Linked DNA regions of Homo sapiens: all the other regions are reported to be linked to region 6. The links are microRNA targets in miRTarBase. Many come from high-throughput screens and were not tested one by one. Region 6 holds a microRNA gene; each other region holds the end of a gene's coding sequence. Distances are between the middles of the regions.
What was found. Region 6 holds the annotated microRNA hsa-miR-205-5p (UCCUUCAUUCCACCGGAGUCUG, at 2,549-2,570, opposite strand). A microRNA usually pairs through its seed, bases 2 to 8, with sites in the 3' UTR of a target mRNA and lowers its output. Matches are read on the target gene's strand: a 7mer-m8 pairs with bases 2 to 8, a 7mer-A1 pairs with bases 2 to 7 and ends in A, and an 8mer does both.

Region 1: miRTarBase lists NCAPG as a target of hsa-miR-205-5p. Seed matches in the 3' UTR shown: 8mer at 706-713.
Region 2: the mRNA of CCN1 is a reported target of hsa-miR-205-5p. The part of its 3' UTR that is shown has no 7-base or 8-base seed match.
Region 3: the mRNA of TNFSF8 is a reported target of hsa-miR-205-5p. Seed matches in the 3' UTR shown: 7mer-m8 at 904-910 and 7mer-A1 at 1,415-1,421.
Region 4: miRTarBase lists RUNX2 as a target of hsa-miR-205-5p. Seed matches in the 3' UTR shown: 8mer at 2,352-2,359.
Region 5: the mRNA of VAMP1 is a reported target of hsa-miR-205-5p. Seed matches in the 3' UTR shown: 8mer at 2,727-2,734.
Region 7: the mRNA of TRAF3IP1 is a reported target of hsa-miR-205-5p. Seed matches in the 3' UTR shown: 8mer at 3,273-3,280.

What each region holds. Positions count from the first base shown.
Region 1 is chr4:17,843,151-17,847,150 of GRCh38, forward strand. It overlaps NCAPG (non-SMC condensin I complex subunit G), which reads left to right. Exons shown (of 21, transcript NM_022346.5): 21 at 152-1,715. The coding sequence ends at 275. It overlaps LCORL (ligand dependent nuclear receptor corepressor like), which reads right to left. Exons shown (of 8, transcript NM_001394446.1): 8 at 1-2,751. The coding sequence ends at 2,738. Among named protein-coding and RNA genes, the nearest start is that of NCAPG, 34 kb to the left of the region's middle.
Region 2 is chr1:85,582,306-85,586,552 of GRCh38, reverse strand. It overlaps CCN1 (cellular communication network factor 1), which reads right to left. Exons shown (of 5, transcript NM_001554.5): 4 at 3,929-4,137; 5 at 2,603-3,813. The coding sequence ends at 3,511. Among named protein-coding and RNA genes, the nearest start is that of CCN1, 3.7 kb to the right of the region's middle. RefSeq lists an enhancer at 4,134-4,247.
Region 3 is chr9:114,900,213-114,904,450 of GRCh38, reverse strand. TNFSF8 (TNF superfamily member 8) reads left to right here. Exons shown (of 4, transcript NM_001244.4): 4 at 126-3,306. The coding sequence ends at 520. Among named protein-coding and RNA genes, the nearest start is that of TNFSF8, 28 kb to the left of the region's middle.
Region 4 is chr6:45,546,788-45,550,787 of GRCh38, reverse strand. RUNX2 (RUNX family transcription factor 2) reads right to left here. Exons shown (of 9, transcript NM_001024630.4): 9 at 1-3,961. The coding sequence ends at 3,483. Among named protein-coding and RNA genes, the nearest start is that of RUNX2-AS1, 28 kb to the left of the region's middle.
Region 5 is chr12:6,460,765-6,464,985 of GRCh38, forward strand. It overlaps VAMP1 (vesicle associated membrane protein 1), which reads right to left. Exons shown (of 5, transcript NM_014231.5): 4 at 4,126-4,177; 5 at 1,473-3,722. The coding sequence ends at 3,706. TAPBPL (TAP binding protein like) reads left to right here. Exons shown (of 7, transcript NM_018009.5): 6 at 91-174; 7 at 1,270-1,552. The coding sequence ends at 1,385. Among named protein-coding and RNA genes, the nearest start is that of VAMP1, 7.8 kb to the right of the region's middle.
Region 6 is chr1:209,430,489-209,434,735 of GRCh38, reverse strand. It overlaps MIR205 (microRNA 205), which reads right to left and starts at 2,603; the gene lies at 2,494-2,603. It overlaps MIR205HG (MIR205 host gene), which reads right to left. Exons shown (of 4, transcript NR_145437.1): 4 at 2,187-2,532. RefSeq lists enhancers at 565-1,164, 1,165-1,762.
Region 7 is chr2:238,398,352-238,402,598 of GRCh38, reverse strand. It overlaps TRAF3IP1 (TRAF3 interacting protein 1), which reads right to left. Exons shown (of 17, transcript NM_015650.4): 17 at 1,702-3,845. The coding sequence ends at 3,680. Among named protein-coding and RNA genes, the nearest start is that of ASB1, 26 kb to the left of the region's middle.

The DNA.
Region 1 (4,000 bases), not on the chromosome of region 6:
CATTGAGATTTTAGTTTTAAGCTAAGTCAATGGAATCAGGCTATCAATTAAACACTGATAGAATGTGAGTCAGAAACAAAAAAGTTTTATTTATAAATAAACTGGTTTTAAAGCTTGTATCTAAATTCGTGTATTTTCAACATCTATTTAGTGATCATGAAGTTCCAGAACCAGAATCAGAAATGAAGATGAGACTACCAAGACGAGCCAAAACCGCAGCACTAGAAAAAAGTAAACTTAACCTTGCCCAATTTCTCAATGAAGATCTAAGTTAGGAAAGACGATGGAGGTGGAATCCTTTAAGATTATGTCCAGTTATTTGCTTTAATAAAGAAGAAGTTACCCTTGTCAAAATCAGAACAAACCTGATGTCTTTCTGAAGATTTTCTGCTGTGCGCTTCCACGTTACTTTGGCCTGTATTAAAGCAGTAGAGCAGCATCAGTTATTATAGTCCAGAAAAAGTGTGCATCAGTCAGTCACACAGATTTATCACAATCTGAGGTGGGCCTAGGAATCTCATTTTTAAATAGTCTCTCCAAGTGATTCTTATGAACTCTTTATGTTTAAAATCATGTCATTATGGAAAACTTACAAGTGTAACTAGCTAGTAGCTTGCATTTGAGAAGCTTATGACTTAGATGGGCAGAATCAACAAAGATGAAACCGCCTGAGGACACATTTAACAAGTAACATTTCTAGGGAAAATGAAGGAAGTACCACAAACTGGCTAGAAAGGAGCTTATCAATCACCAGTGAGGAAGACCAGTATAACGTTCAACAACAGTTATTTTGACAAAAACTTATTTTGTGATTCCTACAGTGAAAACATTTTTGGTGATATCTGCCTGGGAAATCTCTCTTCCTAAAGTATTTGTATATGGGAGTCCTTGTTTGTGAATGTTTCCTGGATTAGGGAGGTGTCAACATAAATGTATTATTAACCATGAAGCTGCTCGCTATATTTTTGGCATAACAAAATAATATTTATTTACTGTGGATAATAATTCTAGTGGGAATATAATGTGACAGGAACTTCTCTTTATATACGCTACCAATTTATGAGCACTATTCACTGTCAATTTCATTTCTTGTCTTTTGAAATTGACACTTGGCCTGACTTACGAAACTTGTACTATATGAAATTGGTCCTCTTTTCTGCAATACCCAACGAAACACCTTTTCTCTTTATTATTCAGAAATGTCCTAACATGGATCTGTTTGTTTTAATAATTGTGCTTTTTTTAGGCTTATCATCTACTAGAGGCCATTTACTTAAGGTGAAATTTTAAGATGGAGCTAAAGTAAGATCACTGGTTTTTAGAACCAAATTGCTATACATATGTGCCTCATAGAACTTATAAAAGGAGTCAAAGTTTCAAAGCAAGATAGTTATTAAGCAAAAGGAAAAATGGTAATGATAGAAAGTCAGTTAAAAATAGATGATTGTTCTTCATTCTGTTTGTTGGCTCTGTGTTCTCCTGTGCTTCAGATTCCTTATGTGTTGTTGTTTTAAAGACAATTTGCAGGGGGTTGGGAGAAGGACTGAAAAGGTACATTAAGTGTGCTGTAAGGAAAAGTCTTAGAAACATAATAAGCTAAAATCCCATTCACACATGGCCAGGCTATCCAAAAAGAAAGGAGCCATGTTCTCATGTGGTTTACCATACCAAAGCTTGCTTTCTCTGGCATGGGAAAAATAAATTTAAGCACCAAACCTTTAGTATTCTGAGTATTCAGTTTTTAGACATAGTCATGTAGCCATTGCTGAAACTGTGCTTTGCACTATTAAAGGTAGGGAATGTCCTGCTTTTAAAAGTCATCCCTTTAACTTTAAAATAAAAGGCTAAGGTACAATAAAACAGATGTAAATCCATTTACCATTTTTCATTCAAAACTGGTAACTTACAGAAACCACATAGTATTTTTCTCTATCAAGAGGCACAGATTTGCTGAACAGTAAACATGCAATTGTGCCATTGCTCTTAAAGCCCACAGACTTAGATTTAAAATACAGAGAAAGAACTGATAAGCTCACATTTTCCTGTGAATGGGAAACATGCTACTTGACAAAAAGCTATGATCAACTTTTTTTCTTCTGTACATATATAACGTTGAAGGAGATTTACTTCTAAGAGATACCTTTGCCTTTTCTTTCACCAATTTGCTTCGAGGTAGTTGGTATCCACCTGTTTTACAACTGCTCATGGGTCAGGTTATCATCACAAATCTTTACAATACTAGCTTTATAAATCACAATGTGTTATATATTAAAACTTTGTGCACAGAAATAAAACTAGGGACAATTACGTATTTAAACTTAGGGCATAAAAAATTCACATAATACCACTAAAAGAGAAACATCAAAATCCGTTTACAAAATTCCACAATGATCTGATGTAAAACATGTAAAAAAAACATATAAAGAATATAATCAAAATGATTAATGCTAATGATTTAATATAAAGACAAATCACAGGACTAGAAATACTTCAAGATCAATTGATAAATGCTTATTGTTCAGAAGGAATACTGACATACAAAATAAAGATAGTGCAAGAAGAACTGCAATCTATTTCTCTTCGCTTTTGAGATTTTGGTTATGAACTGTACAGCTCGTTAGAGATGCTGTTGTCAAATTCAGATTCCATTCAATGGGACGATTAAGGCACATCTTAATGGGGCTCAAAGGGCAACTTGCTGTATTCTCATCAGACACATTCAGTTTCTCATCAGTTTTCACTTGTAGCATGCTGGAAGAAAAAGTGTAAGGCATTTTAGTTTTACTTTAATTTCAAAGTAATTATCAACCTTGTAAAAGAACATTTAGTTGTAGTAGTGTTTGGACCTCTAAATTTTAGCATACATAAAGCATTTATCCTGAAAATACAACAGTTTTCTCTCCCGCCTACTTACTGAACTAAATACAATGAATAATGCCATGTAACCTGTGTAACTTGAGAAGTTACATATGACTGAAAAAGTAACATTGCATATATGGATTACATCAGTATACATCAGAAATTATTTAACCTTGTGAGCCTGGTAGGATTCAACCCTTTTAACTTGCCCTTTTGTGGATCAGAATGAGAGCCACTTTGAGAAAAAAAAGGGATCAACATTTGTTGAATGCCTATTACGTTCTAGCCACCTTCACATGTATTGTCTCATCTGAATTTTGCAAAAGCCAAGTAAGGTTGGTATGCTTATCCTCATAGTAAACAATAAAATCAAGACTCTGAGAGTTAAGTACAAATATGCCTGAGGTCATACAGTCACCTGCCTGGAACTGGAATACAGCCCTTTCTCTTTTCCTTATGCTTGTCTACTAAGCTCTCTGATGAGGCTGGAAAAACATCAGGAATTAAACTTATGGCCAGCTCATCAGAGGAGCATGCGGCATCCACAGGATACTCTGGTTGTTTTTTCTGTTGAAAAAAATTTCCAAGAATTTTTTACATTGATGGGAAAGTTGGCTTATTTGGCTTTACATTAGGTTGGTCAGATCTCTTCAACATTATTCTTTAATATACACCCTCTGTTCTGGACTGGTGTCTTATTCCACAAGTTCATGAGCACAGTCCTGTCTGTTCCTAAATGTTCCCACATAGGGAACCTTGCTCACCACTCTGCTTAACCAAACCTTTACCCATGCCTAATCCAATCTCACATCTCTGAACTTGCTCTCAGTAAAACATTGCATTGGATTGTGAACTATTTGGGGTTCTCCACTATTGTTTCATGTCTAATAGTCTGATAACCCCCTCTAGATCAGAAGGAAAGGATGGTAACATTCTTTTCTCTGTGAAGATAAGCACAGTGCTAAATACACAGTAATTACTCAAAAATTCAATAAACATTTATAAAAAGCCTGTTGTGAAACATCTGGAGCAGAGTGCTACTCTTCAGAATCACAGACACGTGACAGTCAAAAGGGGAGCTAGTCCACTCTGTGTAATGAATACGCCATCCCTAGTTTTAAATATTACTTATAGTCCACAT
Region 2 (4,247 bases), 120 Mb from region 6:
TAAAGCATCAGTTGTGTAGGGCAAGGAGTTAATGAGGCCTGGATAGGGCTATACAGTGAGGTTAAAGTATGGACCTGTAGACTCTGAGATCCAGGAATTGCTGTGTCCTCTAACCAAGGGTGCTTTAGAAAGTAAAGGGGGGGGAAGGGGTCTAGCCACAATACATTTTCAAACGCTTCATGGAAACAAGTGCATTTGATGACAGAAAGCCTTGAGCAGTTTTCAGTTCACACATGTGGTTACTTGAGGAGATAAAAGTTTTAAGGTATGAGAGCCAATGTACCGAAGTGGGTGTATGAGAAAGGGTTTTTGGGGTGACAAAAATGCTGAAAGCTATTTTCCTACTTTAACATGAGGGAGTGAAACAGAAACTTGCCCAGAGTCACCTAGTGAATTCATGGCAGAGCTGGTGCTAAAAGACATGATTCCATGGGATTCTTTCCACTGTATCACCTGCCATTCTGCCCAGAGCATAGCTTTGCTCTGTACTGTGGTCATACTGAACCACTGCTATTGCTCAACTGACTTTCAAGTAGTGCCAGAAGGCTGCAAGAAGAGGTTGTGAACAAACCAAGTCTGTTCCCTCTGTTGGAAAACATAACTCTAAAATATGCTTTGCTAATTTTGACTCAGTTGCATCTCTTTGTGGAGCAGACAACACATATGTTCATATGAAAAAATAGTCATAGTGAGACTACTTGCTGTGCTGCTCAATGTCCCATAGAGTATTTCTTAAAATTCGTGGAATGCCTAAGATTCTGAGATCACTCTCTCAGTTCTAAAATCTCTACCAAAAAATAGCTCAAGACCACCAGGATCTTTTGGATTGAAAAGCAAGAACAACCCAAGGTCTTTACTGTGCATGGGAAGGTACATATATATTATAATGAATATTTCTATATGTAACTTCTATTTCATATATGCAGATGCATAATTTTTGGTTTGTTTTCTCAATATTTAAAGTGGGCAGAGCTCCATTCTGGATGTAGGTAAAACTTACGTGTTCTAAATATCATAATTTTATTCTCCACTACTTTTAATTTCTTCAGGTTTTTCTATAGCTAAACAAAAGACATAATTTGCTTGTATTCATCTTCTTTATTAATTGAACACACTTATTGTAAATGGAATTGGCACTTTCAATCACCCTCATTATATTTACTAGGATGAAATTAATAACCCAAAGATTCAGTGTTTTCCCATACTAGGTTCTGTTTCACATTTGAGCTTATTTGGACAAATACTACTTCCCTGCACACTGAAAGGATCTGTAAAATATTGCTCCTTGATCTCTGCATAAGAAGCAATTTGTTGGACTCCAGTGTTGGAGAGCAATACTTCAGGGTTGATGCTTGGGAATGTGTAAATCTTGCCTATGGATTTAGATGTCTGTTCAACAAGATTGCACCACAAAAGCCTCACACCTTTATTATGTTTCACACGTTACATTGCACTGACAAGTTTAACTGCATCCACGACTGGGCCAGCTGATGTTTAAATTCTCAAATACCTTAACATTTGAATGTCTCAGGCAAGAAACCTGACTATTCAGAAGGCACAAGCTGTAATATTTCAGGCAAGTCAAAATCAGAAGTGAAGGCTTTTGGCCATAGATTTTACTAGTGCATTTATATTAACCTCTATGCATTTCCATAAGGCTTTAAAACCATTTCTTAGGCAGTATTTTTCTGTGGGTCTTCATTAAAGTATGGATCTTATTTAATCTACTTGGAAAAATCCCTTCAGGATCCCAGGAGCTGTCCTCCTCCATTCCTTTTAAAAGCACTTTCTCTTCTGCCTAAAAACTCAAGTACTCTCTTAACTAAGTGCGGACTGAAATATTTCACTATGGATTTGAACAGGAGCCAACAGTGATGATGAAAGGAAAACTTCTCCCTATAAAAGGTTTATTGTCAGCGCTTTCTAAAGATGAAGATGCTTCTGAAACAGACTACTGACATTTTCACAAACATTGACACAGCCTTCTCAACCTCTCCTAGACCTATGATTTGGGTCCCTTTCTTTTAGGAATGCTCTGGACCTTTGACCTTCTGAATAGCCAACTCTATATAACTGCTCCCTCCCCCATCAATATAACGTATATTATAAAAAGGAAAGGGGGATGGGGTAGCTTGGCCCTCACGCTATTGGAAAAGTAGTTGAAATTCCTTGCATTCCTTTGCATTTAACAGCATGTTTACCTAATCACCGGCTTATTAGGATTAACACAAGTCATGCTTCAAGCTCATTTAGTGAAAACAAACTGACTCCTATAGACTCAGATTTTTCCTCATAACAGCCAAGGGTAAATTTCTAAGTAGTTCTAATTTTTAGGAACGGTATTGGGAAAATATAAAGTTATAAACAAGCAAGTCTTTAGAATACATTAATTATATTCAATCTTGCCCATGGGTCTGGATGTGGGCAGCCTGAGTTATGGACTACCCCTTTTCATTAAAGGGTTTCTCTACTCTACTAAAGTGGCATGCCCACTAACCTGGTGATTAAAATAATAAATTATTATAGCCATCTCACAGAGTGATGGAGACCCTTAGGCTTTATATTCTGATGAACATGAAGCGCTGTTTTCTTAAATCACAAATTTAGCTTCAGAATCTTTATTGTGCTTCATACAATGTCGTGTTCAATACATGTTTTTTAAACATTACTTTATATGCAAAGACTTTTCTCTACTGAAGGTATAAAAGCAATCATTATCTTATTTTAATAGCTTAATTCACTGCTGTATCCCAATAAGTCCTGTTTGAATAATTGAGTACGTGAGCTAGGTTGTTCCTAATGACTTTGGAGCACCTCTAAAAATACCGAATGGCATACACTCAGATATTAGGTAAATATTTCTTTATTAAATGGTTAATTCCATAAATAAAATCTTTTCACTGAATATAAAATTAAAATCATTTACAAATTATTCCAGTATTACATTTCCCCTCCCTCCCCAAAAGCTACATTTTGATAAATAAAACATTCAGTCTTAAAACACCTGATTTCTGTTTGCAGTTTAGAGTGCAGATAGCTGCCTCTCACAGACACTCATGGAGTGTCCCCCTTCAGGAAGGGATGGAATGCCCTCCCATTTACTTTTGTCAAAGGACGAATAAAAGCTTTAAACTGTCCAACTAATCTTATTATCTCTTTTACGACTGTAGAACCCCAAAAGGAAAAAAGCCTAGAGAAAATATGCTTAGCAAATAATTTACAAACAGAAAACAGAAAGTCATCAACTCCACAAGCTCCAAAATGAAGCAGTAACATGTGCTCCAATACTATGAAGCAAAGTATTCTCCAATCGTGGCTGCATTAGTGTCCATCCGCACCAGCACCCTTGGCAGTTTCGAAATACCTTAATGCTCCTCAAGAATGAGCAAGGCTTCCTTTCTACAATGAGTCCCATCACCCACACCACCCCCGCCCATTTTCTCCATGATTCTGATTCTGACACTCTTCTCCCTTGTTTGTCTAGGTGTGCCCTGGAAACCCAGGTAGCATTTAGTCCCTAAATTTGTGAATGTCATTGAACAGCCTGTAGAAGGGAAACGCTGCTTCATTGGCATGCGGGCAGTTGTAGTTGCATTTGCAGGACTGGATCATCATGACGTTCTTGGAAAATGTCTCCCCATCTTCGCAGCGGAACCGCATCTTCACAGTCCTGGTCAGCTGGGGCGTGCAGCATCGGCCGTCCACGCAGGAACCGCAGTACTTGGGCCGGTATTTCTTCACACTCAAACATCCAGCGTAAGTAAACCTGACTGGTTCGGGGGATTTCTTGGTCTTGCTGCATTTCTTGCCCTTCTGTAAGAGAAAGGAGAGAAGGAAAGTTAGGGGTGATATTTCTCTTTCTTCAAAAAGATGTTCACATCCCACCCACCTGCCAGGCAACAGTCTACACGTCCCTGAAGGAACTTACTTTCAGGCTGCTGTACACTGGCTGTCCACAAGGCCGCACCTCACAAATCCGGGTTTCTTTCACAAGGCGGCACTCAGGGTTGTCATTGGTAACTCGTGTGGAGATACCAGTTCCACAGGTCTTTGAGCACTGGGACCATGAAGTTGTTTGAACAATACATTTCTGGCCTTGTAAAGGGTTGTATAGGATGCGAGGCTCCATTCCAAAAACTAGAGACATATAAGAGGGAAGACTTCTCAGAGGCATACCGACACAAACAGGCTCAAGCACTCATTTCTACAAAGATTTAGACCAGAAATGCATCTCAGTACAGTGTCTG
Region 3 (4,238 bases), not on the chromosome of region 6:
CAGATGATTGGAACATTACAGAAAACATGGGTCTTGAATGGGAAACTTTGAACAAAGACTTAGAATTTTGCAATGCGTACCTACAATCTTCTCAATAATTCTGTTTTCTATACTTCTCTTTCTAGTGGCAAAGCATCTAAACAAAACCAAGTTGTCTTGGAACAAAGATGGCATTCTCCATGGAGTCAGATATCAGGATGGGAATCTGGTGATCCAATTCCCTGGTTTGTACTTCATCATTTGCCAACTGCAGTTTCTTGTACAATGCCCAAATAATTCTGTCGATCTGAAGTTGGAGCTTCTCATCAACAAGCATATCAAAAAACAGGCCCTGGTGACAGTGTGTGAGTCTGGAATGCAAACGAAACACGTATACCAGAATCTCTCTCAATTCTTGCTGGATTACCTGCAGGTCAACACCACCATATCAGTCAATGTGGATACATTCCAGTACATAGATACAAGCACCTTTCCTCTTGAGAATGTGTTGTCCATCTTCTTATACAGTAATTCAGACTGAACAGTTTCTCTTGGCCTTCAGGAAGAAAGCGCCTCTCTACCATACAGTATTTCATCCCTCCAAACACTTGGGCAAAAAGAAAACTTTAGACCAAGACAAACTACACAGGGTATTAAATAGTATACTTCTCCTTCTGTCTCTTGGAAAGATACAGCTCCAGGGTTAAAAAGAGAGTTTTTAGTGAAGTATCTTTCAGATAGCAGGCAGGGAAGCAATGTAGTGTGGTGGGCAGAGCCCCACACAGAATCAGAAGGGATGAATGGATGTCCCAGCCCAACCTCTAATTCACTGTATGGTCTTGATCTATTTCTTCTGTTTTGAGAGCCTCCAGTTAAAATGGGGCTCCAGTACCAGAGCAGCTAGCAACTCTGCCCTAATGGGAAATGAAGGGGAGCTGGGTGTGAGTGTTTACACTGTGCCCTTCACGGGATACTTCTTTTATCTGCAGATGGCCTAATACTTAGTTGTCCAAGTCGCGATCAAGGACTCTCTCACACAGGAAACTTCCCTATACTGGCAGATACACTTGTGACTGAACCATGCCCAGTTTATGCCTGTCTGACTGTCACTCTGGCACTAGGAGGCTGATCTTGTACTCCATATGACCCCACCCCTAGGAACCCCCAGGGAAAACCAGGCTGGGACAGCCCCCTGTTCCTGAGATGGAAAGCACAAATTTAATACACCACCACAATGGAAAACAAGTTCAAAGACTTTTACTTACAGATCCTGGACAGAAAGGGCATAATGAGTCTGAAGGGCAGTCCTCCTTCTCTAGGTTACATGAGGCAGGAATAAGAAGTCAGACAGAGACAGCAAGACAGTTAACAATGTAGGTAAAGAAATAGGGTGTGGTCACTCTCAATTCACTGGCAAATGCCTGAATGGTCTGTCTGAAGGAAGCAACAGAGAAGTGGGGAATCCAGTCTGCTAGGCAGGAAAGATGCCTCTAAGTTCTTGTCTCTGGCCAGAGGTGTGGTATAGAACCAGAAACCCATATCAAGGGTGACTAAGCCCGGCTTCTGGTATGAGAAATTAAACTTGTATACAAAATGGTTGCCAAGGCAACATAAAATTATAAGAATTCACTATACCTTCCCCTCCCTGGAACTCAGGATCCAAGTCTAGAAAATGAAAGGACTGGGTTTGAATTGCTTCAAAACCTCTTCCATCTCAGAAGACCAGACCCTGGGAACTGAGATTCCAGACACAATTTTGGAAGCTCTCCAACCAAAATAAGGCCCCCCTACCCCAGTATATAATTGAAGACACTAGTAACACCTGACTGCATCTCATCTCAGCAGAGCCAGAATATGGGGACAAGGTTCAGGGTGCCCTGCTGAATGGTGTGAACAGCAGGATCTCAAGGATGTAATGGAAAGAACTACCACACTGACCATCCAGAATCTAAGAGACCATCTGGGTGTTTGGGAAACCATCTGACGAGGCCTGACTCTATTCCAGTTAGATTGACAATAATTGAGCAGCAGGCATTTTTCATTTCTGGTCAGGAAAGCATTGTGCCTTTAGCAAACAATCAGTGTGCAACAGTGATGTGGTCATCTAGCCAGGGAATGGCTGCTCCATCCCCTGCATAATATATTCCTGCTTCAAACACCTCTCAGAAAACCAGTTCCGCGAGGGTTTTTATATCCCCACAAAGTTGTTGAGAGACAATGATGACCCTGGAAGTGGGGAGGAGGACTTCTGAGAAACAGCAACCTCTCTCCTGATTGGGGTAGCCATGAGATTTCTCTAGCTATATCCAACTTGGCATCTGTACATCATCTTTGGAGGAACATCTTATTTGTGGAAGGACCTTGACAAGCCGTTTGAGATGGAATGTAGGCCCTGATGTTATGCTTCAGTAAAAAAAGATGGAAGCTTCCCTGCTATACCAAAACATGGAGCAAAATTTGCATTTTTCTCAAGAAGGAGAGAAAAGGAGTAGGACTCCAGCAAAGTTTGTCAGAAGGAAAGCTAGAAAAGATTTAAAAGAAAAAAAGAAAGAACAAATCAGCAGTGGTGGTATGGATGAAAGGGACTTGAGAGAACAAAAATGGCTAAGGGAAAATTTTAAGTCATCTGCTGAGCAGTGTGCTGTGTCAACCTCCTCCTAGGTCTCCTCTATGAAATATTTAGTAAAGTCTACATTTCTCTTTAACTCTTTCTGTGAGTAGATTCTTTGGGAGAAGCAGGCATTGGAAGAGGTGTTGAATTCAGCAAGCCAAATGGTCTGTGGTAAAAAACAAAACAGACTTTGAGACTCAAGGCTAAAAAAACAGGGAAATGGCTGGCATTTGAGTCACACACTAACTGCATAGGACAAATGAATCTTGCTTAAACCAACTCATGCATTCTTGAAAAGGTATATGCAACCCAACTGTGTGTTAACTAAGCAATTTTTTTGCCATCTCACATTCTAACTCGAGAAAGATTCCATTTTCATTTTTCACCAACTGTTCTCTGAGCAGAGGTACCTGACTTTTGCACTGTGAGTGGTTTCTAATCTCAGTCTCTGTCAAGCAATGCTAAGAAAGCCAACACCTAAAGACACAAGGGGTACATCATTTAAATGAATAATGTAACCAAACAAACAAAAAAAGAGAATAATCATTAATAACTCAACTGATAGATATGTAGGGAGTAGGCAACCCAGGAAGTTTAAAACTAAATTCTGTTACTCTTGAGGGTTAACCAGCCCCTGGGAATGTTATGAGCAAATGATACTCCATGAGTAAAATGATATCTATGCAAGTAAAATAAATAATTTATCTAACTGGGAACTCAGGCTACCTAAAACATATGCCTCTTTGGTAAAAACTCAACTTGAGCTCCTTCCCTTGCTCCTACCCTCTGAACCCCACCTCCCCACCACACACACACACACACACACTCAGTGTACTTGCAGAACTTGTAGAGGAAGATGGTAAGTGAGCTCACAAAAACATAACAAGTCAATGTAGAGTCATCCAAACTGGAGTGGAGTGGTGCTATCTTGGCTCACTGCAGCCTCCCCTTCCTGGGTTCAAGTGATCCTCCTACCTCAGCCTCCTGAGTAGCTGGGACTACAGGCACGCACCACCACACCCAGCTGATTTTTGCGTTTTTAGTAGAGACGGGATTTCACCATGTTGGCCAGGCTGATCTCGAACTCCTGACCTCAAGCAATCTGCCCACCATGGCCTCTCAAAGAGCTAGGATTACAGGCGTGAGCAACCACACCTGGCCTCTAACCCTTTTCTGAATCATATATTGACCATGTACTGAGTCTATAGAGGATAGAGACCACCTGTGTCTCACATTCAAATCACCATCCCAGAGTGACCGGGGCGAGAGCAGGGAAGAGCAGAGGAAACCTCCAAATGTGGGGACTGTCCAAAGTAAGGTTGGAAAGACGTGACCTGAGGAATTGCAGAAAGGCTATAGGAGGCCCTATCAAGGCTGGTGGGAAATAATGGAGATTGGAATATGAGACTGGGCTCAAATGCCAGCTCTCTCACTAACCACACTCGAGGACTTCGCAAGTGTCTGCTCCCTGCTGGGCTTCCAACCAATGGGACTTCCATCAAGCCTGGCAGATCTCTCAGGAGTGTTCTAGAGATGATACAGGCTGACTTCTCCATCCTCTTAATTTAAGGGTTTGTCCCTTCCATCCCAGAATAAGTGGTATTCCTGGAATTGTGGGAGGCTCCCTTGTCTGACAGATTCTGCCAGC
Region 4 (4,000 bases), not on the chromosome of region 6:
TGGTAAAGCATATCCAAAAGAAATGGAATTTTATTCAGAATACCTAAGAAATTATTGTAAGTTATGGTTTTGGCTGATATATTTCAAAGTACTGCATTAAAAAGCAAACAGTTATTTGTAAACATGAAGTAAACACACATCTAAAAAATTCTCACATAGAAAATATTTTTAAATGCATTCGTTTTCTAAAAACAACAAATTCAAGGTTTGGAAGAAGTGTCTTTTATTATTGTTCTTTCAAATACCATAGGTATAATTATTACTTTTGCTAATGCTTCGTGTTTCCATGTATTAACCTGGATTCTGGGCCAGTCCCTTTCCTCGGAATTGAGGGAATCCTTAAAGCTGTACACACATCTCCTCCCTTCTGAATTTATCACAGATGGTCCCTAATGGTGTGGACTTCTCTGCTCATTTTGAAAGGGCTCTGGCAAGTGAGAGGCAGTGAGACCGTCTAAAGAGCAAACGATAGTTAATCTGTTGAGTTTCTCAGTTCTGGGCTGAATGTTATTCCACTAATCTAAAACCAAAGCTGTGGTACCTGTTCTGGAACTCTGATATGGGTTAAAATTTGTGAGACAACTGAAATGGATAAAAATGTGGCTGCATTGAAAAGACTGCAAATTCCAGCAATGTTTGTGCTACAAAGAGAACCACGCTATTTTAATTCCCAGGAACTAGTACATGGTTCCACAGTAGTAGTAAGACTTTGCTTTGGTCTTGAAATCACAAATCAAACACATGACCCAGTGCAAATTAAGGGTTCAGTGAAAAAAAAAAAAAAAGAAAGAAAGAAAAACAAAATTTTAATCCCTAGACCAAAAAAGGGCAGAATTTGTTCTAAGAAATGTGAATTACCCCCATTGGGGTGGTTGGAGTGAGGGTGGAGGGAAGAAGTGCTTGAATTTTTCCCAAGGAAAAAAAGCTTCTAAAGTGTTTCTGGGTTGCTGCCTGCAGCCACTATAGTAACATTTCAACACAAAAGCATCCCTAAAGTCACTCGGTATGTGTACTGTAAACTTAAAAAAGCCCTTTTAACATTAAAAAATAATGTACAAATATAGTACCTTTTTAATTAAATAGGATGCAGCTGGCACTGGCGGTAGCATTTTTATGTCAATTAATTAAAATTGAAATGTGTAACCAGACACTGGCTTTTTTAAGTGCTGCTGAAACAAACACACATATTTTACACTTACAAATAAATGGACAGTGGTGTGCTTCAAGCTACCACACACAAACAATAAATAGTATCAATTACTACTTCCTTCTTACTTAAGTAATAGAAAAGTGGCTTATTTATCTAAGCATACTTGGTATACGGCCTTTAGAAGGCAAAGTGTTTTGCTTTCCCATCCATTTTTATTAGAAGGAGTCAGGATGAATTCCAAGGGAGACTCCCAGGCAGGAAGCACAGGTCCAGCTGCCCCACACGCTGTCCTGCAATGCTGGGTGGCCTACAAAGGTGGGTTTGAGAAGGACCAGAGAACAAGGGGGCCGTTAGGGTTTGAAGGCAAATCTCTGCTAAATTCTGCTTGGGTGGGTGGAGGATTCCAATGAAGGGACCCTGACTTTTCGGGGAGGAGAGCAGGGATTGGCCTGGTGGTGTCATTAGATGATCCTTGTTTGGATTAAGGATTTGCACTTGGAAATCTGCCATGTGACTGCCAGGAGTGGTCAAAGTGCATGCCACAGAAGGACTCTAGCTCAAATTCATACACACTAGTAGACACCAAACTCCACAGCCCCTTGCCCTCCTTGGCCCTCCATTGTAAGAAATACAAATGTCAAAGGCTGTCTGTAGGTCCCCGTGGGCCATATGTCCTCTCAGCTCAGCTACCTGCTGGAACCTGCTGCCTTTTCAGAGGACCTACTCCCAAAGGACAGTGATGTCATTCTGCTCCTCTAAATGCAAATTCTGTGGAAAGCTGCCAGTGGGGCCTTGGGTAAGGCAGATTGGGGTTCCCCTGTTGTGTTGTTTGGTAAGGCTGGTTGGTTAAGAATCTCTGGTGCAATTTTGCTCTCCTGTACTAGGTGTCTCATAATTGAACCCTCTATCCACATGTGCGGCTTTTAGCTGACTATGTCTTTGCTATGAAGCCTGGCGATTTAGAGTTTTGCTTAACTATGAAACCACAGAACATTTTTCTGTAGTTCAATGATTTACTTGTGCTTGTCTTTTTAATATGACAAGAGTCATAATTACCCCAAAGAAATTAGAAAACCACATCACTCCAGCATTTCATGCTGATAAAGGGCTAAAGGTTGTTTTTTAAATCCCTAATTACCGCTTTAGAAGGCAAAGCTGTGTTAGAGGCATTCAAAGATCTGAAAGAACTAAACATAACATTTCCTTCATACATCACAAAAACAATCTATATCTAAAATATTTGGAGATGGAAGTATTTTTTAAAATCACATTGTGCCTGGATGAACTGAAATTGCTTAGCAATATTTCAGATATGGCTCTAGACCACTGAAGAAATTTGTTATTTAATAAAGAGCACTTTTAGAGACCGAAGTCAACATATCAATACACTAAGAAATGTTTCAAGGGTCCAAATGTCATTAAATAATTATAAATATATCTTTAAAGTTATATGACCATTCACGTTAGCAAGTTACCTCAGATTTTACACATATTCATAATTTAAAAAAAAAGAAAACAACACATAGCCAAACGCAATCACTATCTATACCATTATGGCTATAATAATGTATTGCCATTTTCAGTTTTGCATAAAAGGAGAAGGCAGGTTTTAGGGATGGGATTTCTTTTTGGTTCAGTGGGAAAAGGGGAGAAGGAGTGTTAAAAAGTAAAATAAAATAATCTATCCTGATCAGTTATTTTTGAAGTCACTTTCTTGGAGCAGGAAAAAAAAAAAAAAAAACGAACCCAACAGTTCAGATGAGGACCTGCAGCATGTCTGAAAGCAGAAATTGGAAGAGTTATTCTGAATGATGGTACTGTGATGGAAGCATCCATTCTACCTCATGTCCCTTTAGTGCACCTCAACTGGTTTTGTGAGCTGTCTGCGGAGGGCACTGGTCCATACACAGCTGCCACCGTGAGGGTGTGAAGTTTCAAAGCACAGAGAGGAAGCGGCTTTGCTCTTCTCCCTCCTGAACCTGGAGTCCACCTCTCTGAATTGGCATATGAACAGGTTATTGATGATAACAGACCAAACAACAAAAACAAAAATACCTTTTCCCTTCTTTGTTCCTTTGTAAAAGTACATCTTAAATAGTAAACAATCTGAAGCTCGATTGCAATTGTCTCTCTTGAGCCTTCTGCTTCTCAATATCTACCCTCTTATGGCTGCAAGATCATGACTGAGTGAGTGAATGAAAAATCTTCTAAAAAATAGGCACTTTGTAGATAGCTAATCGATATACATATATATGCACTCTCTCTATATATGTATATATTGATACGTGTGGGATGTGGCCCCCAGATACCACTGGGCCACTGCTGAGGAATTTCAATATGGTCGCCAAACAGATTCATCCATTCTGCCACTAGAATTCAAAACAGTTGGGGAACTGCTGTGGCTTCCATCAGCGTCAACACCATCATTCTGGTTAGGCAAATTTGGATTTAATAGCGTGCTGCCATTCGAGGTGGTGGTGCATGGCGGAAGCATTCTGGAAGGAGACCGGTCTCCCCCCGGCACCATGGGAAACTGATAGGATCCTGACGAAGTGCCATAGTAGAGATATGGAGTGCTGCTGGTCTGGAAGGGTCCACTCTGGCTTTGGGAAGAGCCGGGGTAGGGTGGTGGCAGGTAGGTGTGGTAGTGAGTGGTGGCGGACATACCGAGGGACATGCCTGAGGTGACTGGCGGGGTGTAAGTAAAGGTGGCTGGATAGTGCATTCGTGGGTTGGAGAAGCGGCTCTCAGTGAGGGATGAAATGCTTGGGAACTGCCTGGGGTCTGAAAAAGGGCCCAGTTCTGAAGCACCTAAAAATTATAACAGAAGATGGAGGGAAAAATCTGTAA
Region 5 (4,221 bases), not on the chromosome of region 6:
TCCTCCTCCCTGGGGTGGACACTGCAGGTGAGGGCTCAGCTCATGATTCCTGCGCACGATGATCCCCGCCCACGTTGCTCTCACCTACAGAGCGGAGAACAGCCTTGGGAGTCATCTTTGCCAGCAGTCTCTTCCTTCTTGCACTGATGTTCCTGGGGCTTCAGAGACGGCAAGGTAAGAGCCTGGGTGCCCTTGGCTCTGGCCCTGGCCCACCTCACCCACTCTAACCACCCCCCCGCCCAGACCAGGGTGGAAGCCCAGATGCCCCAAGCTCCAGCCACCCACCCATCACAGCCTCCTGCTTTTGAGTTTGCCCTAAATGAAAATGAAACCAGTCGTGTTCCCTCGTTTTCTCCTAGCTACCTCACTAAAGTCTGTCACTCTCCTGCCTCAGAGTAGAAAGAAAGAGTAGTCACGTGCTCCCAGAAGGACTCTAAGTCAAGTCACAGAGCTAAAAATACATGAAGGTGGCACCAGCTCATGGGGCACTGGGCCTGGCTCTGCAGAGGCCTCTGCCTTCCTTCACTGTGCACCCTGGGCTCATGCACCAAGGCAGAGAACAGGAAGAAGTGAGGGGACAAGAAGAAGGCAGAATGTCCAGATGGAGGATAAGACCAAAGAGCCAGGTTGGTGGTGTGACGGTAGGAAAACAAAGCTGGAGGAAATGGAGAAGGAACAAGTGAGGGACAATGAGGCATGGGTTGGGGCTGGGCTACCCCTCCCAAACTCAGCTCTGTCAAAATAAAAGGCCCTTGTGTCTGCTGCGACCAAGCTTTTCCACTTTCCTGTCTTTCTCCACACTGGTCCCAACTGAGCCCTGTCACCAAGCCTAGCGGCTCCAACTTGCAAAGTGTTTAAGTATGAAACAAAGGCCCTCAGAGGCACCCCCGTGGCTCCATCTCAGTTGCACCTCAGCTGCAATTAGGGTTCTGCTCCCTCGGGTGACTGCTGGGAGGTTCAGGATACCTGCAAATGCCTCACTCCCTCAGCTGCAAGGAGAGACTTCTCCTTTTTATTCGTTTCTAAAATGTGCCTAATCAATACGGTGGAACTCAGCATACCAAAACTGTACGTGAGGATGATGGGGAAAAGGGGGTAAGGGGGTGTTCACTGACAGCCTTATCTGGGCACATCCCCTGGGACAGGACAAGCAGGCCAAGGACCTAGGAAGGAGCACAGGAGGCAGATGGAAGAGGCCTGAGGGAACCTGTGCTTGTTTGCCAGTGTGAGATGCCCACGCAACTTCCTGTCTTCACTTCCTCTTACCAGCACCTACAGGACTTGGGCTGCTTCAGGCTGAACGCTGGGAGACCACTTCCTGTGCTGACACACAGAGCTCCCATCTCCATGAAGACCGCACAGCGCGTGTAAGCCAGCCCAGCTGACCTAAAGCGACATGAGACTACTAGAAAGAAACGACACCCTTCCCCAAGCCCCCACAGCTACTCCAACCCAAACAACAACCAAGCCAGTTTAATGGTAGGAATTTGTATTTTTTGCCTTTGTTCAGAATACATGACATTGGTAAATATGCCACATGCCTTTGGTGGAAGTACAACTGTTGTTATTACTCTATACAAGTATGAGATCAGGGTTAGGAAAAAAAGACAAAGAGGTGATGACAGACACACAGTGGAAACCCCACATCGTCTCATGGCAAACCGAAGAACGGGATGTGGGAAGCTCAGCTTCATTTGACTGCAAAGTCCCAGGGTTTTGTTGCACATTTGCTCATGCACATGGGTGGTGGGAGGAAAGGGGGATAGCAGAGACACACAGAAGAGGGTACAGGGTGGGTGAGAAAGAAAGTAGAAGGGCTAATACCCCCAAAGAACAAGGCCAACTACACCTGGTGAGCCTCAGAGGGACAGAAACCCAGGAATGATTCCTGTGATAGGGCTGGGAGAGCCAAGAGGACGGATTCGCTCCAGGCTTGGGACACATCGAGGACAGTGGTGGTTCTTCTCCAGCGGTGACCCCCTGCATTAGGCAAGGAGGAGCCCAGAGGAGAGTGGAGACCTTCGAGGGGGGCCGTTGGGAGGGTACTGACTGCTTTCTTCCAGCTCTTCAGTCCCGCCCTTGGGCAGGACGAAGGGAATGTGGGAAACAAGGGCGAAAGGAAAGGAAGGATGGTTTTGAGCAATGAAATGCTGCTGCATGGAAAGTGGGCATCCAGACCCTGCCCAGCATGGCCTCAGCCTCTTCCTGTTCGTGGACCGAGGGAAGAAGGAATAAAGGGCCATGGGCATTCTCCGCTCTGTTCCCAGCCTGCCCTCCTCCCCTTGCACCTGGGCTTATCCCACATTAATAGCCCATCCTGAAGCTCAGCAATTGCCCCGAAGATAGGCTGAGCAGATCCCATCCTCAGGTTCCACTGTCTATACACACAAACCATGCAAAGAGGAGGAAGAGAAAGGAGGCAAAGTAGAATTCAGACAGGAAAGGGTGGTTCAAAGGGGAATATACTACAGGAAGAACAGAGAGGCGGCTCTCAAGGAGAGGGCCCCATGACAGCACAGCAATACACAAGCACACCTGACACAGGCTGGCACGCCTCCCCCCAAGGTGGGGCTGGTGGGTCTACATGACTTCTCTGCATCCTGAGGATCGGCCGGGCCCCAGGAAGAACCACTTGCCTCATCCCTGTCTTTGGCAAGTGCACGGGTGGTGTGGAGGAAAGGATTCCATGGGTGTCCAAAGATCTCACACTGCTAACACCCTCACGCTCCTTCATCAACAGGAAGAGAGGAACAGGACCCTCTTTAACGAGGGCAAGGAGTGGCTTCCTCTGAGCTTGTTACTTTCAAATTAAGCACTTGACTCACTGTTTCTCTATAACTAACAGGCAATCTCTCTCTTTATGCCAACAATTAACTGGGAGCTAGGTTAAATTATTTGGCTAGATAAAACTACCAGCTAGATGGATTTATTTGGTGCCCTCATACAGAATGCTGTAGAAAATGTAAAGAAGAGAAAGCTCCTTCCAGCTAGAAGCACATGGGACTGCTTCTAGGATGGAAACAAGTCCTGCTATTTTCACAATCCCTAAGTGTTCTCCAGGCCTCTGGAGAACAAAGTAAAGTTGTAAGATCCCCAAAGACACGGAAAATCCTGGACGAACAGATTAGAAATAACTACAAAAAACAAGTTTTTACTTTCGAAAAGGGTACTGCACTGAAACCAAGTTGGACTTTGGTCCACCCCCAGGACCCTCTTCAGGCCTGGTCCAGGAAGGAAAGCTCCACATGACCAGGCAGTACTGAGTGAGCTGCCATCTTCCCAGCCCCTCCCTAGCTCCTACCAGTGGCCAGGTTTTCTAGAAGTCACCATGGGCACCGATACTCTTCTCCTCCCAAGTCTGGGCAGCTTCATGGGTACTTCGCCTCAGCCACTCCCCTCCCTGCCCCTTCCCTTGGCCTCCAACTCTTTGGGGCTTTGGGGGAACTTGAGAGTACAGAAAAAGCAGGCAGGGAGGAGGCGCCAGCTGTTGCTCTTCGGGTAATGACTTAGATTGTGCCACGAGCAGCATTTCTAGTGTTGAGGGACAGAGTGCAAATGAACGCAACGAAAAAGGAGGAATGGGTGATGGAGAAGCCTGGGCTGGAATGGAGGACGGTGGGTGGGGAAGTGTGTTGAGAGAGCAAACAGAGGGCAGAGGACATGAATGTGGATGGCAATGGACAACAGGGAAGGGGTGGTACATTCTCAAGTAAAAAAGTAGACTGGACACAGGAATCAGGAAGTCCCAGACGGAAAAGAGAAAGAGACAGGAGAAAACAAGAGGGTGAATTACACCAAGTTACCAGACATTCAGGTCTCTCCATTGTTAAGTGCCCCATCCCCATGGTCTCCCTCCAACCCAAGCCAGTGACACACAGCATAGCCCCACTTCCTCAGAACAGGAGGCGCCATCTCCCTGCAATGCGTTGCAGGGGGAAGGCTTGTCCATCAAAGAAATCCCTTGTCTCTGCCCTTCCCCCGTCCCGAACCAGGTGACGATCCCATAGCAGCGGTCTCCATACCTCAGTCAGAGCAGCCCCACTCCCCAGGCAGGCAGGCAGGCAGGGAGAAGACTCCAGGACCTTCCCACCTCTTCACCCCACCAGCAACTTCAGCGATACTTACTTACAATAACTACCACGATGATGGCACAGATGGCTCCCAGCATGATCATCATCTGAGGAAACATGGACAAAAAATGAGCCCTTGGATTTCAGGAAT
Region 6 (4,247 bases):
TATTTGGAGAGCCTTTGCCAATACACATTTTCTCGTGTACTGGGAAACTGGAGCCCGGATGCGATATATTATTGATAGGATTGTAATTTACTCCTCTTGGGTTGTATCTACAGTGTATACCATTAGCACAAAATATTAAATTACCAGTGGTTGTATATATTTGTCTATCCAGGTTTGGCTCAATGATATTTGCCTTTTGCCTCAATAAAAGATTGTGAATAATGAAAGCAGGGTAATATTATTTTGTTGTTGTTGTTGTTGCAAGGGAATTTTGATGAAACCATTTTCTCTGTGTTGTGTTTTTGGCGAGTCATGCTTTGCAATGAAGACATGAGACATAAAAGAGTGGGGGTTGGACATAGAAGATGGATGAGCAGCTTGCTCCAGCTCTGGGCACACACTGGCTTCCCTGGCAAGCTGCTCTGGGCCAGGCTTGGGGCTTTCTTTTTCTGCAAGAGGGAATAAGCAATCTGTGCTGCATTGGTGGGAGGAAGTGGGCAGTTCAGACCTTGGTGCCAGAAATACCAAGCCCTGTGCCTCTCTTGTGAAGATAGCATTTGCATGGGACTTTGGGTGTGGGGGAACCCAACAGCACATCAGGTAGAACCTTTTGTAGTCACAGCATTGTGCCCTGGCTAGTGTTTGACAGTCTACCCTCTGGTCACCATTGTTGGCCATTTTGGTTCCTGCCTCCACCTGGGCCAGGTGGCACATAAATACACAAGCACTTATCTCCTATAAAAAGATTCCAGGTCATAGGGCTCAAACCAAGCTGCAAATAAAAGTGCCACATCGTGTCTGTCGTGTGCTTTTTGTTCTGATCTCAGGGCTTGTTTCAGACCTTGAATGGGAGGTGTTTGCTGGTTAACTAGGAGTTTGCTGGACAAACAGCACCCCACAGTTGGATTTGCTACGCAATTTTTATGAGTAAACATGTTTTTAAAAAATGCCTGTGGCTTGGCTTCTTCATCCTTTTGTTGCCTGTGGGTCTTGGAATGAAGGGGTGGGGGTGACAGAAACTAGGTTTTAAATCTGTATTAACTTGACACAGAAAAATATTTTGGAGAAAGGTTTATTCCTTTTAGTTCCTGCTGGCAATCTGGGACCCTCAGGGGTCAAAAACCAGGGAAGGGTTGGGGGAAGGTGAAGAGACCTATCCCCCTCAGAGGTCACTGGCTGGGGGGCAGGGCTTGGCCATTCAAGTGATCGGTATCCATCTGCAAAGCTGGAATCTCCTTTAGAGTGAGCTCCTAAGAAAAACACCACTCAGCCAAGGAGAGCTATTGTATTTTGCTGCCTGGGGCACATTCTGGAGGTGAAAACCGGTTTTTCTGAAGACTTGTCAGGGCCAGGCTTTGTTCAGAATCTGCCAATTTAGCCAGACTGGCTCCTTAAAGGAGACCCCTTTACCTGAGGCAGGGGCCAATTATAAAAAAGGCTTGTGGATGGCATTCCCTTCATAACTGGGTTGGACTTCCTTCAGACTTAGGAACTTTCTCTTGTTCCACACCTTCTCCTTCCTTAAAAAGGAGAAACATGGAGTAACACACACACACACACACACACACACACACACACACACGCACACCCAATCACACTGAATTGTAAAGAGAATGAAATCAGTGCTAAATCTATCAAAGCGTATCATAGACCCTGACAGCTGAGAGGTATTATTTGCTTTTTTCCTCCCAGATTTCTACCGAGCCTGGTGTTTTAAGCTATGTCTTGGGGAGAAGAGACCCATAGAAAGGCAATTACAATTGGTGAATGATTAATGTTGGATCTGACATTTTTATGTGTCAAATATGTTTAACTGCATTAACCTTTGCAGAATCTACACCCATACTATGAGATATATCTTGTATAGCATCGGAAATATCTGCAATCTGCCTTCACTTAAATTTTATTTACATTTACTTTATTACAATATAAATAGGTTTAAAAAATCTTTAATAGAGTGTTTTTACCCCATTCTGCAAGTTCTGCTTGCTCTGTGGGGAGTCTAAGGGCAGCAGGGTTCCTTGCTGATTGCAAATAGTGTCCCAGCCACCTGCCTGGGGACCCTAAAGAGAGAGGAAGCCAGTGTCAATTTTTCAAGTTCATGTCTCAGTTTTAGCCTAAAGGGGAGGTGGCTTAGAAGGCCGGGAGTTGGCATCCGATGGTATAAAACATAGAGGCAGAGAGGCTTTTCAGTAGACAAGCAACTTTTAGTTTTTACAAGTTACAGAAAACGCAAATTTTCATAGCATCAATTTTAGAAAAGAAAGATTAAGGTTCCCATCTGCGGTGCTTTTTCCAATCTGCCCATCACCCGTCCCTCTGAAGAAGCACGCACACTCCAGATGTCTCCTTCATTGATCACATTTCTCTCTGGCTGTCTCTATTCCTAAGTCAGAGTTACTCTTGCTGCTGCTGCTGCTGCTGCTGCTGCTGCTGCTGCTGCTACGGTGGTGGCGGCGGCGGTGGTGGCGGTGGCTGCCGAGGCCTCATGGTTGTCAGCTCCATGCCTCCTGAACTTCACTCCACTGAAATCTGGTTGGGTATGAGACAGACTCCGGTGGAATGAAGGACAAGAGAAGCACATGGATTGTCTGAGGATCTTTTTCTCAGAGGGTGGGGATGCATGTCAACCTCAGCCTGTAGACACTGCATTACCTGGCCAAAGGCCTTTGGCATCCCGGAATCACACATTTGGGAGATGTCAAGGACCTGAATACTCCTACCCCTCCCATAGGATCACATCCTCCAAGGAGGCTGCAGAGAGCTAGTTCAACACGTCCTTGCACCTGCTGCACAGACAGACAGTGCTGAGTTGGGGAGGTGGGTCTGTGGGGCCAGGGACTCTTGACTGTTTCTCGTTTTCAAAACAGCCACCCAGATAAGTCCATGTGGAACCTCCTCTGTGTTTACCTAGTTGGGATGTCGGTCACCCTCTCCCTTTGTCTAGGTCCCACTGTGTGTGCCATAACTGAGCTCGGTGTGGTTGGTCCTTTCTAGAGGAAACAAAGAAAAAGCAGGTGTTCTGCAATTGCTTTAGAAAAATCCAGCTACTCTGAGCTTGCTTACCAAGGCCTTGGAATGCAGGGGCATGGGCATTCCTCTCCACAAGGCACTGTCCAAAGAGCACGAAGAGCACTTTGCAACCCCGTTTGCCAATGTGAAATCCAGAAGAGATAGGTGAGGAGCTCAGGAAAAACCACAACTCCTGGCTGGAGCCAGGCCCATTCATGGGGGTGGGTGGACAGAGGAGGGTAAGACTCCTTGTTCTCACTCCTAAAGACTTATCTAGGAAGGACAGCCTCCAATGGCCCCACATCCTCCCCAAGATGTGCCTGGAAAATGATTCAACTATTTCTTTGTTGGTCATGAGGATGGAGGATTTAGGGAGGAAGAAAGCAAGCTAACCTGGCTTTCATAGACTGAGTCAAATAGGAAGGACGCAAAGTATCTAAGAGTTTTCTGCTCTGTCTTAAAAGAAATGCCCATCAACCCTTTGCGTGCTGTTGCTGCTCTGGCCTCTTCCTTGTTGTGTTCAGACATGCCCATGGCTCAGTGCAAGCCCCATAAAAGGCTGTTCTCAGCACCAACATGCAGGCTGGATGGGTTGGGGCAGATGCACCTTGTTGTTTGAAATACTTTCTTCCTGGGGCTTGTTCTGACCCGAAGCAGGGAGGCAGTTTCTCGTATGTGGCTCCTCCCCACGCATCTAGCCTTCTGGGCATTGGGTCTCTCTGAAAAAGGCCCTTAAGCAAGGGCTTGAGGTTTCTAGCTAGTGCTGAGAAGGAGTCACACTCTCCTTGGTCTGAATGTAAAGACTCTTTGCCAGGGTGAACACGGGGCTTGTTGGCAGGCAGAGATCTGGGTAGTGAGGGGAAGAAGACTGGTTCATCTTCTCCTGCTCTGCCTTCTTGATAAACACTCACAGTTCTCAATAATGAGAGGAAAATGCACCCTGCTTGTGAATTATCTGGACCAGATCCTCCTCCTGCACCGCCTTTGACCCATTCCCAGTCAAAGGGAAGAAAGAGGCCAGTCTGTTGGCTGTAATAAATAAATGATGGCCTGGGATGGTAGGAGGAAATGATGCCAGGAAGGCAAGATTCTTTGCCTTCTCTTTAGATTTCTGCTTAACTCCAAGAGCAAAAGGGGCAGTCAATTCTTCTCCCTCCAGACCCTCGGCACCCCGCTCTTCCCCTCCCAACATGTACAGTCCACTAGATTATTAAAGTCCTCACTCTGGAGTGTGC
Region 7 (4,247 bases), not on the chromosome of region 6:
TTTGTTTTTGTTTTTTTTTTTTTTGAGACAGAGTCTCACTCTTTTACACAGGCTGGAGTACAGTGGCACAATCTCGGCTCACTGCAACCTCTGCCTCCCTGGTTCAAGCAATTCTTCTGCCTCAGCCTCCCAAGTAGCTGGGATTACAGGCACCCACCACCACGCCTGGCTAATTTTTTTTATTTTTAGCAGAGACAGGGTTTCACCATGTTGGCCAGGCTGGTCTCGAACTCCTGACCTCAGGTGATCTGCCTGCCTTGGCCTCCCAAAGTGCTGGGATTACAGGCGTGAGCCACCACACCCGGTCAAGTTCTACAGCTTTAAAAGACATTTAAATTTCTCTTGCTGAATTTAAAAGAAACCAAAGTCCCTCCCAATATCCCTTTATGAAAATACACATAATCAAAAAGGGGTTCTGACTAGGGGGCTTCACTAATGCCCCAATGTAAAGCTTGCATAAACCATACTTATTGAAACACCTTTTAGGAAAATATAAAACATTTTTATTAATAAAGTGTATCCTATGATAGAGTTAAACTCAGAGCCCAAATGTAGCAAGTAGTTACATTTGAGAATCACTGAGAACAGCTATTCCTTCTCCTCCGACTTAGGCTGGCTCATGCTTGACTTAGAATTTTTCTTACTTCTGCTTTGCTACATTAGTCTTTGCTGGAGAGCCCCTCAGAGGAGCCCACAGTGGTCTACGTAGAGGCGCCATGAACAAGGTTATTTACTCTCTGCACTTTCGGGTGTGGAAAGAAGAGTCCAGAGTGGGGAGCCAAGTCCAGGTCTGGGTGTTTAGTGTCTTCCCTGACGGTGACATGCTGAGCCTTGATCCTGCTTGGGCGTGGCCTCCTTCTGAAGCAGGTTCCTGCGGAAGCTCAAACAGGCTGCTCATCCTGCTTGCTGCTGGCTCACACTGGCTACTGATCCCAAAGCTGCTCAAAGGCCCTGGCCATCTTTTCTCTTACTCGTGTGCCATGACACTGTGCACATCGACCAACAGAAGATAAACCCCATCAGTCCAGGGCAGCTCAGAAGACTAGCACCGGAATAGTTCGGGGGCACTCGTTAATACACTGACTAGAATTCCATATCACCCAAATCCTAAGTAGCACTTCATGTCACCAAGTGACATCATTTTTCTTCATAGATTTCAGTTTTTAAAAGTTGATTATTAAAAAGAAAAATAAGGATGAATATCAAAGTAGAAAGCTGCATTTTAGTCTTGAACTATTTCTTCCAAAGGTCTATTATGCATTTCCTTTGAATATAAATTATCATCAGCTCAACTTTTAAATTCAAATTCCTGAAGTATGACTCCAGTACTCCCTGAAAACTTATAAACCAAAGTATAGAAAAATACTTAATAATCCCATTTGTGTATTGTCTCAAAATAAGAGAAAAATTAAATTTCTCAAATTAAGATCAGGATCTAGTGTGTAGGATAAGATACAGTAACAATCACGTGTAGAGACCTTCTAAAACTTCACAAATGATCTTACAATTTCTGATAAATGCTTACCTATCTTATAAAACTTCAATTCATACTGAAAAGAGATGTGTCACAATATGAATGAAAAGATGTATTTCCCTGAACTTTCCTCACGAGAAAAACAAAACACACACATTTGAAAATAAAAAATCCAAATGCTTATGATTTTTCCATGTGTGAATCGAACTGCACAATCCATACACTTATGGAAAAAATATGTGATTATTTTTAATGATTTACGTATAAAAGAAAAATAAACTTTATGATACAATTTGACAGACTACTTCATAAAAAATTTTACTTACATACAATGTATGCAATTTTTGGCAACCCCCAAACTCTATTCACATATACAAATTCATAAAAGGCAGACATCTCAACTTGAAGTAAAACAAGGTCCATTCAGGGTCATGGCTAAGTCATTTGATTCAGTAGAAAAGAGATTATAAATACATGAAGGGCTACTTAACTCATGTCCCTCCACTCCCCCAAAATGTATGTAATATAATCTGATCAAACAGAATTTTATGGTGCACTATAGGAAGGAGAAAAAGACCAGCGTTTCAGAATGGCAGATCTTAATAATCTGCTCCTGAACTTATTCAGCTCAGAAAATCATATAACAACCTGAGTACAGAATTTATTTTGGAAATTGTATGAAGAAAAACCCAACGGTGCCATTTGTGCTAATCCTTAAAGAAACAAAACCTGGCCGGGTGCAGTGGCTCATGCCTGTAATCCCAGCACTTTGGGAGGCCGAGGCAGGCGGATCACGAGGTCAGGAGGTGGAGACCATCCTGGTCAACACGGTGAAACCCCATCTCTACTGAAAATACAAAAATTAGCTGGGCATGGTGGCGTGCGCCTGTAGTCCCAGTTACTCAGGAGGCTGAGGCAGGAGAATCACTTGAACTCGGGAGGCGGTGGTTGCAGTGAGCCGAGATTGCGCCACTGCACTCCAGCCTGGGCGACAGAGTAAGACTCCATCTCAAAAAAAAAAAAAAAAGAAAGAAACAAAACCTTTTCAGGCAATCCTCACACTTTAAATGGCACTCCTCAGTTTACATAATAAATACACTATTTAAAAGTATTAGGACCCAGACCTCAAGACCCATAAGTATGTCTTCAAACACAATGAAATGTTTTATACAGTAACTTAAGACTCTGCTAAGTATTTACAATAGTATATGTAAGTGAAAAACTATAAACCATGTTTTTAAAAAACTTTTGCTTTAAAAAACAATTTCCAAAAAAATGGCTAACATCAAAAAACGTCGTAAATCAGTGCATCCTTTTAAGTCTTCCTTATGTTGTTTTTCCTAAGCTGCCTGTCTCTCGGTATGCACACCCATGCAAAGGAAAAGCCATGGCGCCAATGCTTTGCAGAGCGAGACCCTCTTAAGGAGAACAAGGACTCCGGGGGGCTGCGCTAGCCTCTGTCTGAGGAAAACCAGGGTAAACTGCGGAAGAAAGTGAGGATGTATGTCCAGACAACGTCCATAAAGGCCATCCTGAAATCTCCTTTTTAAATTTATGAACTTTAAGGACTAGAAACACAAGCAAACGATAGTAGAGATCAAGAGGAAAATTACATAGAGAAGTACATGCAATTACAAAGAGGTCAAAAAACAAAAATGAAAACAATCCAGTTGATAGGTACCTGATATGGAGACAGGCTGAGGTTAGCCCTTTCCATTGGAAATTAACTAAAAATATAATGTATTCATTTTCAGGCCTCATTCTACTTATCAAGTGCCTATCAAAAAGTACACAGTCATCCTTCATTCGGCACTGACCTCTGAAAGTCTTTCCACTAAACCAAAATAAAGGACTACTGTTCCCTTGGTATGCCCACACCACTTACCTGCTAGAGAGTTCTGGTACAGAACTAAACAGGTTACAGCAGAAACACAAAGAACAGGCTTTCAAAAAAACTTTTCACAGAGGTGTTTGGAAGCGCTATTTATAACTAGCCAGTATTCCATCTGGAAGGAGGTAAGAAAACATGGTTTTTTTAATACACTTAACATGCTTACAGTTTTAAAGCTCTGAAAATTAGCTGGATAATAACATTGTAAACTGTTCATTTTCTTAGCAAACTGGAACTTAAAAGAGTAATGATTTTCTATCTTCCTTTTTGCTTTTAAACTGAGGTGACTTTTCATCTCTGAAACTTTTGAGTGTTCACCTTCTCGAAGTCAAATTGATACTATATACCATTTTCTGGATTTTTTCTTCATTCTTGAGGATGTTGGCCTTCACAGCACAGATCTTGTCTTGCTGGTCTTTGATCAGCTGCTCCAGCTCCGCGAGCTCAGCCTTTAAGGGCTCCACGGCACAGTCTGTGATCCTGAGGGAGAACAAAACCAGCGGCTCATCACTCTCTCATCTCATTGTGTGTTGGCTTCTTAATTAAGACATTGAAAGACAACAGAAGTAAATTATTCGTTTCATCCAAAGAAAAGGATAATATTTATTTCTTATTTTCACAACCCCTGCTACAACCAAAAGTGAAGTCAAACATGAGATTTATAAAAGCAGCAGTTAATATTTCTTCAATGATAATCTTGAAGTCCTTAAATTACATACAGAACAACCTCTGGGACAAGGAGGTATGCAGCAAAGTCCCCATTGACTTTGGGGATCCCCCCTCCACTACCCCCCACCTATGTTCCTGCCGCAGGGCCTCTTCCCCATTACTGCCCCACTCCGCTACACCCCTACCTCTGCTCCTGCTGCAGGGCCCCCTCCC